3 linked regions of the Homo sapiens genome follow. The protein of the gene in region 2 interacts with the protein of the main gene of each other region in a pairwise test. Each region holds a gene or a part of one and is shown on either strand. Other genes may lie near its edges.

Region 1 (3,500 bases), on a different chromosome or scaffold from region 2:
AGTTATAATTAATGCAACTTTTTTTAAAAATATGGAGTTTTAAGAATTTTGCTCTTTGGAGCAAGACTAAATAATTGAAAGTGCTTACTTAGATTGTCAGATATGATATTTCTCGCCTATAACTGTGGAAGGGTAACTTTTCTACACTAAGTTCCCTGGTGCTATTTTTTTGCAACATAGAGCTGAGTAATATATTGCCATTATTGTGTTTATTTCAATTAGACATTCTTCTGGTTAAATAATAAACCAAAGGTCTATCATCCACAAAATTGGGTGTTTTTTGTTGTTATTTACCAGCAATCGAAATTCAGATTCTGCAGGCCCATTTGCAGTGCCTGACCATCTTCGGCAAGATGTAGAAGAATTCGAAGCTCTCTATGACCAACACAGTAACGAATATGTTGTCCGCAATAAGAAGCTATGGGACATGAACCCAAAACAAAAATGTTCAACTCTATATGAGTAAGTGGGTTGAAATTTTTACAACCATTATTTTATACTAAGGCTGCCAATTAAAGATCAGAAGTTGTTTAATTTGTGCCTGTTTTTAGAGATTTTGCCACATTTTACACAAAGTTAATTTAGGATTTTTTTTTTTTTTTTGAGACAGAGTCTTGCTGTGTCACACAGGCTGGAGTGCAGTGGTGCAATCTCTGCTCACTACAACCTCTGCCTCCCAGGTTCAGGTGATTGTCATGCGTCAGCCTCCCGAGTAGCTGGGATTACAGGCTTGCACCACCATGCCTGGCTAATTTTTGTATTTTTAGTAGAGAAGGGTTTCACCATGTTGGCCAGGCAGGTCTCCAACTCCTGGCCTCAAGTGATCTGCCTGCCTCAGCCTTCCAAAATGGTGAGATTACAGGCATGAGCCACCTCGCCCCGCCCTGAGGATTTTTAATTATTAAATTTAGAGTCCTAATGATTATTGATTTTGTCAGTTTGAGCTACTAAGTCGATACTGAGTGGGGTGGATAAAACAAGTAAAAAATTCAGGAAAATCTCAGATAGCTTACCATTTTGAGCTTTGTGTTATTAGATAGTGCATGAGGCCTTCCTTTTAAGAAAATAAATCAAGGGCTGAGGTCTGTAATAGAGTATTAATTTAAAAGCCAACTCTTCTCCTGGAAGTCCTGTCAGTAGCATATCCACCATATGGCCCTTTCTTCTGTTTTCCTGTATTGCATCATTCCTATTTAGTTCTGTGCTCTTAGATCCTTCTTCATGGTTTTTCTTTAGAGTTGAAATGCTGAGCAAATCATATTTCCAGAGAACTCTTGGGTGACAGTGTGGAAACAACTGTAAAATTATACTATTATTTCTTAAAGTATGCTAGAATTTGCTTCAGGCATCCAAAAGTAAAGCTAAAGTATGTAGTTTTCAGTATTTACTGTACGCAAATTCAAATAGGATTTGTTTTTGAGATTTGATTTTCTCTTTTTATTTAAAATTCTTATTGGCATTATTATCTTTCCTGAATAAATTTTTTGTTGTTGTTTTTAGAATAAATTATGTAATTACATAGTTGAAAGTTATGAAATAACTTTTTGATTTCCTTTTGCTTTCCCCTGCTCCCAGAAAAGTTTTAAATGATCATTTTCTAGGAGGTAGACAAAATTTTCTTTATAGTATCATTGATTGCAGTTAACCTTATGTTTGTTATATTTGTTGTTGAGGAAAGGTTGAGATCAGTGAAAAGTGAAACAGTGTTTTCCTTTGGGAGAATAAAAGTTTTTTTCAAATAGACATATTCAAGTACTTCCTTATAGTAACTCATGTAAATGTAAATTTTTTCCAAGTTACTTCTCTCAGTTTTTGGAGGAACATGGTCCCTTGGACATGAGTAACAAGATGTTCTCTGCAGAATATGAGTTTTTCCCAGAAGAAACTCGACAGATACTAGAAAAAGCAGGAGGTTTAAAACCTTTTCTCTTGGGATGCCCTCGTTTTGTTGTGATTGACAACTGTATTGCACTGAAGAAGGTTGCATCACGGCTCAAGAAAAAAAGGAAGAAGAAAAACATTAAAACAAAAGTAGAAGAAATTTCAAAAGCAGGGGAGTATGTACGAGTTAAACTACAACTGAATCCAGCTGCTAGGGAATTTAAACCAGATGTAAAGTCTAAACCAGTGTCAGATTCATCTTCAGCACCAGCTTTTGAAAATGTGAAACCCAAACCTGTGTCTGCAAATTCTCCCAAGCCAGCTTGTGAAGATGTGAAGGCCAAACCAGTATCCGACAATTCTTCTAGACAAGTTTCTGAGGATGGGCAACCCAAAGGGGTCTCTTCTAATTCTCCTAAACCAGGCTCTGAGGATGCAAATTACAAGCGAGTCTCCTGTAATTCCCCCAAACCGGTTCTTGAGGATGTGAAACCAACTTATTGGGCTCAATCCCATTTGGTCACAGGATACTGTACGTATCTTCCTTTCCAGAGATTTGATATCACCCAGACACCGCCAGCATACATAAACGTGTTACCAGGTTTGCCCCAGTACACCAGCATATATACACCCTTGGCCAGCCTTTCTCCTGAATATCAGCTACCAAGATCAGTACCAGTGGTGCCGTCTTTTGTAGCCAATGACAGAGCAGATAAAAATGCTGCTGCCTATTTTGAGGGTCATCATTTGAATGCTGAGAATGTTGCTGGTCACCAGATTGCCTCTGAAACACAGATCCTTGAGGGCTCTTTGGGAATATCTGTAAAGTCACACTGCAGCACAGGTGATGCTCATACAGTCCTGAGTGAGTCTAACAGAAATGATGAGCACTGTGGAAATTCTAACAACAAATGTGAAGTAATTCCAGAAAGCACCAGTGCAGTAACAAACATTCCACACGTGCAGATGGTTGCCATACAGGTAAGAGTTAAATAGAAAAGTCTTCTTAATACTGAAGTTAAATTTTCCTTTTCATTTTTCATTGCCGTTATATTTGCAAGAATCCTTAAAGTTGATTGACTTTATAATGATTACTGAAGCTTTTGCCTGAAAATACTTTTAAAATATGAACTCTTTTGTGAGGCATGACAGGTAATCTTCTCAGAAAGAAGCTTGGGTCCAATAAACAATACCCATCTTTGCTACTGAAATTCTACACAGATTGAGAAATAAGACAGCAGGTGGAGCCAAAACGTCATCCTAAGAATTAATAAAGGTGCTGGAGGAGAAGGTGGCTGTTTGTAGGAAAGTTCAAGTGCTAGCTGGAAGTGTAGCCTGCATCACAGTGCCTTACCTGCCAGTTACAGGAGGGCCCACCTGGAGGCCTTCCAGCGTGGGGTGCCTGCCCCATAGGACTTAGCGCATGAAGGAGGAAGGGAAAATGTGCTGGCAGCTCCTCAGAAAGAGAAGGAAAAAGGAAGACTCTGACCTACACAGGCCCAGCTTCTCCTGTCAAACCAGGGGAGGAATGAGAATGTTAAAAAGAGACAGCCAGGTAGAAACAAGAGGGATGTGTATGAGTTCTTTCCTAACAAGGAAGAGATGAAATCAAGATTCTC
Region 2 (3,500 bases):
TTCTGCAGTGTTAGACACCTCCTGAAAGCCTAGCCTAGCATTTACTGTATTCGATACAGAATAAGAAGGGCAAATAGAATGTGATTTCGTTTTTCGAGAGACTGTAGAATATTTTGGGGATATATCAGACATTTCTTATGTGCCACCTTAGCTCTTCCTGGTTTCACCTTGCTTCAGGATCCTTGGCTACTTTTCTGTCCCGCTTCTCTTGCAACACTGTATCCTGCTTGGGCTTGGGGTAGTCTCTACTGTATAACTTAACAGATGTGCCTCTCCTGGTCCTTAGTTAGGTGTCTTTCACCTTCTGTCTGCCCCAGGGCATCCCTTTTGCTGCCAAGGTGTGAGATGCCTTGGGACCTAATTAAGGACAACTCTGAGATTGGGGTGGTGAGAGGAAGTTGATGTTTGGTGGGCCAAATCTTTGAACCTTTTATGGATGGAAGAAGTGAGCCAGGGCTATATTTTCACTTCTCCCTGGATTTATTATAACGGAGGGAGTGAGATAACTAAGTAATATAATTGTTAACCGATTTAACTTGGATGTCAATTATAACATGGTGCTTAGAACACTTACTGTGATAGCTTTCTTTGTGGATAGTCTCTTTGGGTGTTGGTTTCTTGAAGCAGTTCAGTTAGACTTCATCTGCTTCCTTTGCCTTGGCTGCATTTGATGTGTTGATGTTTCGAAGTGTTGCTGCATTGGAATTTTGCTCTTTTTACTTAAGGCATAGAGGCCATGTGTTATACTTGGCAGCCTAAAGAGATTCTTTAATGCCTTTGGCCAGGGCCCAGTTTTAAATTTACTGGCACTATTTCTTGCTCTAATTTTATATTGCATTTCAGAATCTTTGTTAATAGAGTGGCAGAGTATCTTTGCCATGAGTGGCTAGAATTTCTTTTGATGTTCTTCTTGGAGTATTTATTGCTTTGGTAGAGAATCTGTCTTAAGAAAGTGGTTTTGGGACCGGGTGCAGTGGCTCATGCTTGTAATCCCAGCACTTTGGGAGGCCGAGGCAGGCCGATCACTTGAGTCCAGGAGTTCGAGACCAGCCTAGGCAACATGGTGAAACCCTGTCTCTACAAAAAATACAAAAATTAGCTGGGTGTGGTGGTATGTATTTGTATTCTCAGCTATTCAGGAGGCTGAGGTGGAAAGGATCACTTGAGCCGGGGAGGTTCAGGTTGCAGTGAGCTGTGATTGCATCTCCGGCCTGGGCAACAGAGCAAGACCCTGTCTCAATAAATAAATAAATAAATAGGCCGGGCGCTGTGGCTCATGCCTGTAATTCTAGCACTTTGGGAAGCCGAGATGGGTGGATCACCTAAGGTCACGAGTTTGAGACCAGCCTGGTCAACATGGTGAAACCCCATCTCTACTAAAAATAAAATCAGCTGGGCGTGGTGGCGTGTGCCTGTAATCCCAGCTAGTTGGGAGGCTGAGGCAGGAGAATCGCTTGAACCCAGGAGGCAGAGGTTGCAGTGAGCTGAGATCGTGCCACTGCACTCCAGCCTGGGTGACAAGAAGAAAACTCCATCTCAAAAAATAAAATCTGGCATGGTGGCTCACACCTGTAATCCCAGCACTTTGGGAGGCTGAAGCGGGTGGATCACCTGAGGTCAGGAGTTTGAGACCAGCCTTGCTAACATGGTGAAACCCTGCTTCTACTAAAAATAGCAAAAATTAGTTGGGCGTGGTGGCGCACACCTGTAATCCCAGCTACTTGGGAGGCCGAGGCAGGAGAAATGCTTGAACCCGGGAGGCGGAGGTTGCAGTGAGCCAAGATCATGCCATTGCACTCCAGCTCGGGCCACAAGAACGAAACTCCATGTCAAAAATAGAATAGAATAGAATATAGAATATAGAATAGAATAGAATAGAGTGGTTTTGAGTAAAAGTATACCCTGTTTTTCTTTTATAACTTTCTTTTATATGTGGGATGATTCATAACTGACTTGATTGAATACTAAGTTATTTTTTTATTATTGCTGTTAGACTTCTCCAAATACATTTCTTTTTCTTTTTCCAGGTTTTAATGGTACGGTTCGCATCATTATTTGATGCAAAGGAACGTACTGTCACCTTTTTAAGTGGAAAGAAATATAGTGTGGATGATTTACACTCAATGGGAGCAGGGGATCTGCTAAACTCTATGTTTGAATTTAGTGAGAAGCTAAATGCCCTCCAACTTAGTGATGAAGAGATGAGTTTGTTTACAGCTGTTGTCCTGGTATCTGCAGGTAAGCAAGCTGGTTCAAAATTGTGCCACACCTAGCATATAGTGACCAACTGGGGAGAAGATGGCAGTTAACAGGGTTCCAGAAAGTTATATAGAGGGAATAAGGCCTTAAGGAAGATGCTAAATTGTATGACCCTGTTATTTTTGTGTAACTAATTTTTTCGTTATAACAATATATGTCAAAGTACTATAGGAATAAAGTAATACTTACATCTAGGCCTTGTGTTTACCACTGTTAGTCTTTAGCTTTTTGTTCATAATTTTTCTATGAGTCTAAATCTTTATTTCATGAATTTGTTAGAACATTATGTATCTCCAGGTAGGTAGTTGTAATATGAATTTCAGTTTCCATTCAAATACAATGTGGGTTACTTGAAAACATTAAAAGTATCAAGAGGTATTAGTGTGGTTTGTTGCAGAGAAATGTGAATTAGTTGTAGGCTTTAGTCCAGTTCTGCCATTGAATTATGTGGGTAACTTGGGTAAGTAACTTTACTCTTTTGGGTCTTGGATTCCTTCCTCATCCTGTCAAAGGAAGGGGTTGTACCATGTGAGCCTAGTGTGGTGTCTGGCATAGAAGAGCTACTCAGTCACTGTTTGAATGAGTGAGCAAGATTTTTGAGTTTCTAATGTTTATTTATATGAGTCATTTATGATGTTTCCCAATGCCCCTGCCATCTTGCATTAATATTACAGTTATTTCTGACAGTACCCATTAAGGCAGAGATTGTTACTCCCAATAACAAATGGAAATTGAGGTACTTTCCTGGGTATGTCTAAGTAAGTGCCAGCTATTTTTAGGCATCATTTTATTGTATAACATTTGGGAATTTTTTAGTATTTGGTTATGACTTTGTTTCCCATTTGCTTCCTACTGTGTAAAGGGCACTGTGCTAGGCATTGTGAGAGTTATAAGTTACGGCCTCTGATTATGTAGCTAAACCATAAATTAGTAGCTCTTGAAAGAGAACAAGTTCTTGGCCAGGCGCCAGGGGTGCACGCCTGTAATCCCAGCACTTTGGGAGGCTGAGGTGGGTGGATCACCTGAGGTCAGGAATTTGAGACCAGCCTGGCCAACATGGTGAAACCCCCTTCTCTACTAAAAATACAAAAATTAGCCGGGCATGGTGGCACGTGCCTGTAGTCCCAGCTACTCAGGAGGCTGAAGCAGGAGAATCGCTTGAACCTGGGAGGCAGAGGTGGCCGTGAGCCGAGATCACACCAGCTTGCATTCCAGCTTGGGTGACAGAGCGAGACTCCGTG
Region 3 (3,500 bases), on a different chromosome or scaffold from region 2:
CACTGACCCATCCCTTGTCTGGGCTTCCAGGTAGAACTAGAGTTTCATTCAACCTACATGTGCCTATAGGTCCTCACTGCGGCAACGACATCTCTCAGCTCAGTAATGGCCACTTGGAGCAGGAATATGATCTTTATATGGAAGACTCAGTGGATGCTTATCACCTTCATAGAAAGGTACTCACCTCCCACGTCAAGAGAAAAGCCAACATGTTTTTCCTCCAATGCATAAAAGGAACTTCCATAGGGCTGGCAGGAGTCAGGCTGTTCAAGACAACTGGAAGGAGTTGAATAACATCTATCCAGTGAGTCCTGCAAGACTTCAGGCTCTACTACCTCCAGCAGCTCCCTGCTGAGCCTGGAAAAGGAGGAAAAAGTAAAGAATAAGCCAGGGGAAATCACACACAACAGAGCCCCAACTAGGTTTCATGGGTAGCATAGGGAAGTGGTTAAGAAACTAAAAGGATAGATCCATTAATGAGGTAACAAATTATTGCCTTCATGTTGGGACAGAACAGGGCCAAATGGAAAAGAATGAAAGAGAAAGACAGACACACACACACACACACACACACACACACACACACACACACACACACAGAGAGAGAGAGAGAACGAGCTCAGTGAATTGTCCAGGTGACACACTGATGAGGGAGTAACAGGACACTCTGAGTTAGTGCCCTCAGGACACACAGCATACAGTGATCATGAAAAGACTGTGCTCAATAATTTTCCATAAAATGTGCTCAAGTTTCCATGCAGTCGCCATGAGAATACAGTTTTTGAAGTCTGGTCCACCTACAGTAGGTTAGTAAATGATAAGGGGAGGAAGAAATGGAAACCTAAATATCTACTGCAATGAAAACCAACAGCAATGTTAGTAGGAATAATTCAGGCTTGCTTGAAAAGATGTAATCGATAATGTCAGCCCGCTCTGTTTTCCCTGAACCAGGAGTCTCCAGATGTCAACACAGAAGTAGCTGTTCACAATTGCTCAGTTACCTGGGGCATGGTGGGCCTTGGTCTTCTTCCTCTTCTTGGTCCTTTTTAATTCCTGCAATACATTCAGACAGGGACAGACAAAATAAGCCAATTCACCTACACCCATAACAGTCCACTGTCTAATCCCCACACAGGGATCTCAGGCTCCTCAGCATGAGAACAGGACAATGTGAGAGATATACTTCAGGAGGCCTGAAAGCTGGTCATGATATTCTTTGGTTTGCATCTCAGAACCAAGGGTGAAATATCCCCATTCTGGTAGATCGTTATCCCAAAATCACTTATCCCAAGTTTGTGCAAACAGTTATGCCTTATTGTTCCCATCAGTTCAAAGAAAATGCCCCAGATGATTTCTAGGAGGAAAACTGCAGTATTCAGCCCTGTCTCATCAAATGCCCAGCTCGTTCATGGATGCAAGAATTTTAGACACTGAAATTAGAATGAAGGAGGAAATCCACAAACCCTTGAGTCCAAATCATAGTTCTGTGAATTTTTTACATCTGCCTGGGTCCAATGTGCTGAGAGCGGGCTCAGGTTGCCACAGGCATGGCTGGAGACTAGGAATAGAGCCTTGCTCACTGACCCATTTCATGTCTAGGCTTCCAACTGAGACTACAGTTTCATTACAACCTATATGCGCCCATAGGTCCTGCCTGCGGCAATGACATCTCTCGGGTCAGTAAGGGCCACTTGGAACAGGAATATCACCCCTATCTGGAAGACCAGGTGGAGGCTTATCACCTTCATAGTAAGGTACTCACTGTCCACGTCAAGAGCCAAGCCAAGGTACTGTTCCTCCAATGAGTAAACAGCACTGCTGTAGGGCTGGCCTAAGTCAGGCAGTTCAAGATAACCTGAAGGAGTCGAATAACATCTATCCAGTGAGTCCTGCAAGACTTCAGGCTCTTTCTCATCCAGCAGCTCCCTGCTGAGCCTGGAAAAGTAGGAAAAAGTAAAGAATAAGCCAGGGGGAATCAGAAACCACACAGCCCCAGCTAGATTTCATGGCTAACATAAGGAACTGTTTAAAAAGAAAAAGGACAGATCCATTAATGAGGTAATGAATTATTGCCTTTATGTTGGGATAGACCAGGGCCAGGTAGAAAAGAATGAAAGAGAAAGACAGGGAGAGGGAGAGAGAGAGAGAGAGAGAGGAGAAAGTGAGCTCAGCGAGTTGGCCGGGTGACACACTGATGAAGGGGTCAAAGGACACTCTGAGTTAGTGCCCTCGGGACACACAGCGAACAGTGATCATGAAAAGAGTGGGCTCAATAATTTTCCATAAACTTGCTCAAGATTCCATGCAGTTGCCATACAGCCTTTGAGGTATGGTCAACCTATAGTAAGTTAGTAAATGTTAAGGGGAGGAAGAAATGGAAACCTAAACATCTACTGCAATGAAAACCAACAGCCATGTCAGTAGGAGTAATTCAACCTTCGTTGAAAACATGAAATTGAACACACTCTTGTTTTCCCTGGACCTGGCATCTCCAGGTGTCAACACAGAATTAAGCATCCATAATTGCTCAAAGTTACCTGGGGCATGATGGGTCTTGGTCTTCTTCCACTTCTTGGTACTTTTCAATTTCTGCAATAAGTTCAGACATGGACAGACATATGAAGCTGGTTCTCCTACACACATAACAATCCACTGTCTAATCCTCACACAGGAACTTCAGGCTCCTCAGCATGAGAATAGGACACTGTGAGAGATATTCTTCAGGAGGCCTGAAGGCTGATCACCATAGAGATTCCTTGGTTTTTGTCCCAGAAACTGTGGGTAAAATTCCCTATTCTGGTAGATCGTTATCCCAATATCATTTGTCCCAAGTTTGTGCAAATGGTTATGCCATATTTTTCCAATCGATTTAAAGCAAATACCCCCAAATGGTTGCTAGGAGAAAAACTGCACTATTCAGCCCTGTCTCATCAAATACTCAGATTGTTCATGGTAGCGAGGATTTTAGACGCTGAAATTAGAGTGAAGGATGAAATCTACAAGATCTACAAAATTGAGACAAAATCAGAGTTGTGTGAATTTGTCACATCTGCCCAGGTCCAATGTCATGAGAGTAGGATTAGGGCGCCACAGGCATGGCCTGAGACTAGGGAGAGAGCCTTGCTCACTGACCCATCCCTTGTCTGGGCTGCCAAGTGGAACTAGAGTTTCATTCAACCTACATGTGCCTATAGGTCCTCCCTGTGGCAATGACATCTCTCAGCTCAGTAAGGGCCACTTGCAGTAGGAATATGACCCTAACCAGAAGACTCAGTGGATCCTTATCACCTTCATAGAAAGGTACTCACCATCCATGTCAACAGCCAAGCCAACACACTGTTGCTCCAATATGTAAAAGGCACTTCTGTAGGGCTGGCATGAGTCAGTCAGTTCAAGACAACCTGAAGGAGTTGAATAACATCTATCCAGTGAGTCCTGCAAGACTTCAGGCCCTTTCTCATCCAGCAGCTCCCTGCTGAGCCTGGAAAAGTGGGAAAAAG

The links. The genes of interacting proteins can lie anywhere in the genome.
Region 1: the proteins of NR1D2 (region 2) and TTC3 interact in a two-hybrid assay, tested with the Homo sapiens proteins (one large-scale study listed by BioGRID and IntAct).
Region 3: the proteins of NR1D2 (region 2) and NBPF19 interact in a two-hybrid assay, tested with the Homo sapiens proteins (one large-scale study listed by BioGRID).

Annotation. Positions count from the first base shown.
Region 1 is NC_000021.9:37,163,754-37,167,253, forward strand, and holds part of TTC3 (E3 ubiquitin-protein ligase TTC3), read left to right. Parts: intron 1-297; coding exon 298-462; intron 463-1,796; coding exon 1,797-2,862; intron 2,863-3,500. UniProt on the Homo sapiens protein: E3 ubiquitin-protein ligase which catalyzes the formation of 'Lys-48'-polyubiquitin chains. Mediates the ubiquitination and subsequent degradation of phosphorylated Akt (AKT1, AKT2 and AKT3) in the nucleus.
Region 2 is NC_000003.12:23,965,786-23,969,285, forward strand, and holds part of NR1D2 (nuclear receptor subfamily 1 group D member 2), read left to right. Parts: intron 1-2,027; coding exon 2,028-2,238; intron 2,239-3,500. UniProt on the Homo sapiens protein: Transcriptional repressor which coordinates circadian rhythm and metabolic pathways in a heme-dependent manner.
Region 3 is NC_000001.11:149,516,545-149,520,044, reverse strand, and holds part of NBPF19 (NBPF family member NBPF19), read right to left. Parts: intron 3,482-3,500; coding exon 3,309-3,481; intron 2,590-3,308; coding exon 2,538-2,589; intron 1,936-2,537; coding exon 1,763-1,935; intron 1,054-1,762; coding exon 1,002-1,053; intron 358-1,001; coding exon 185-357; intron 1-184.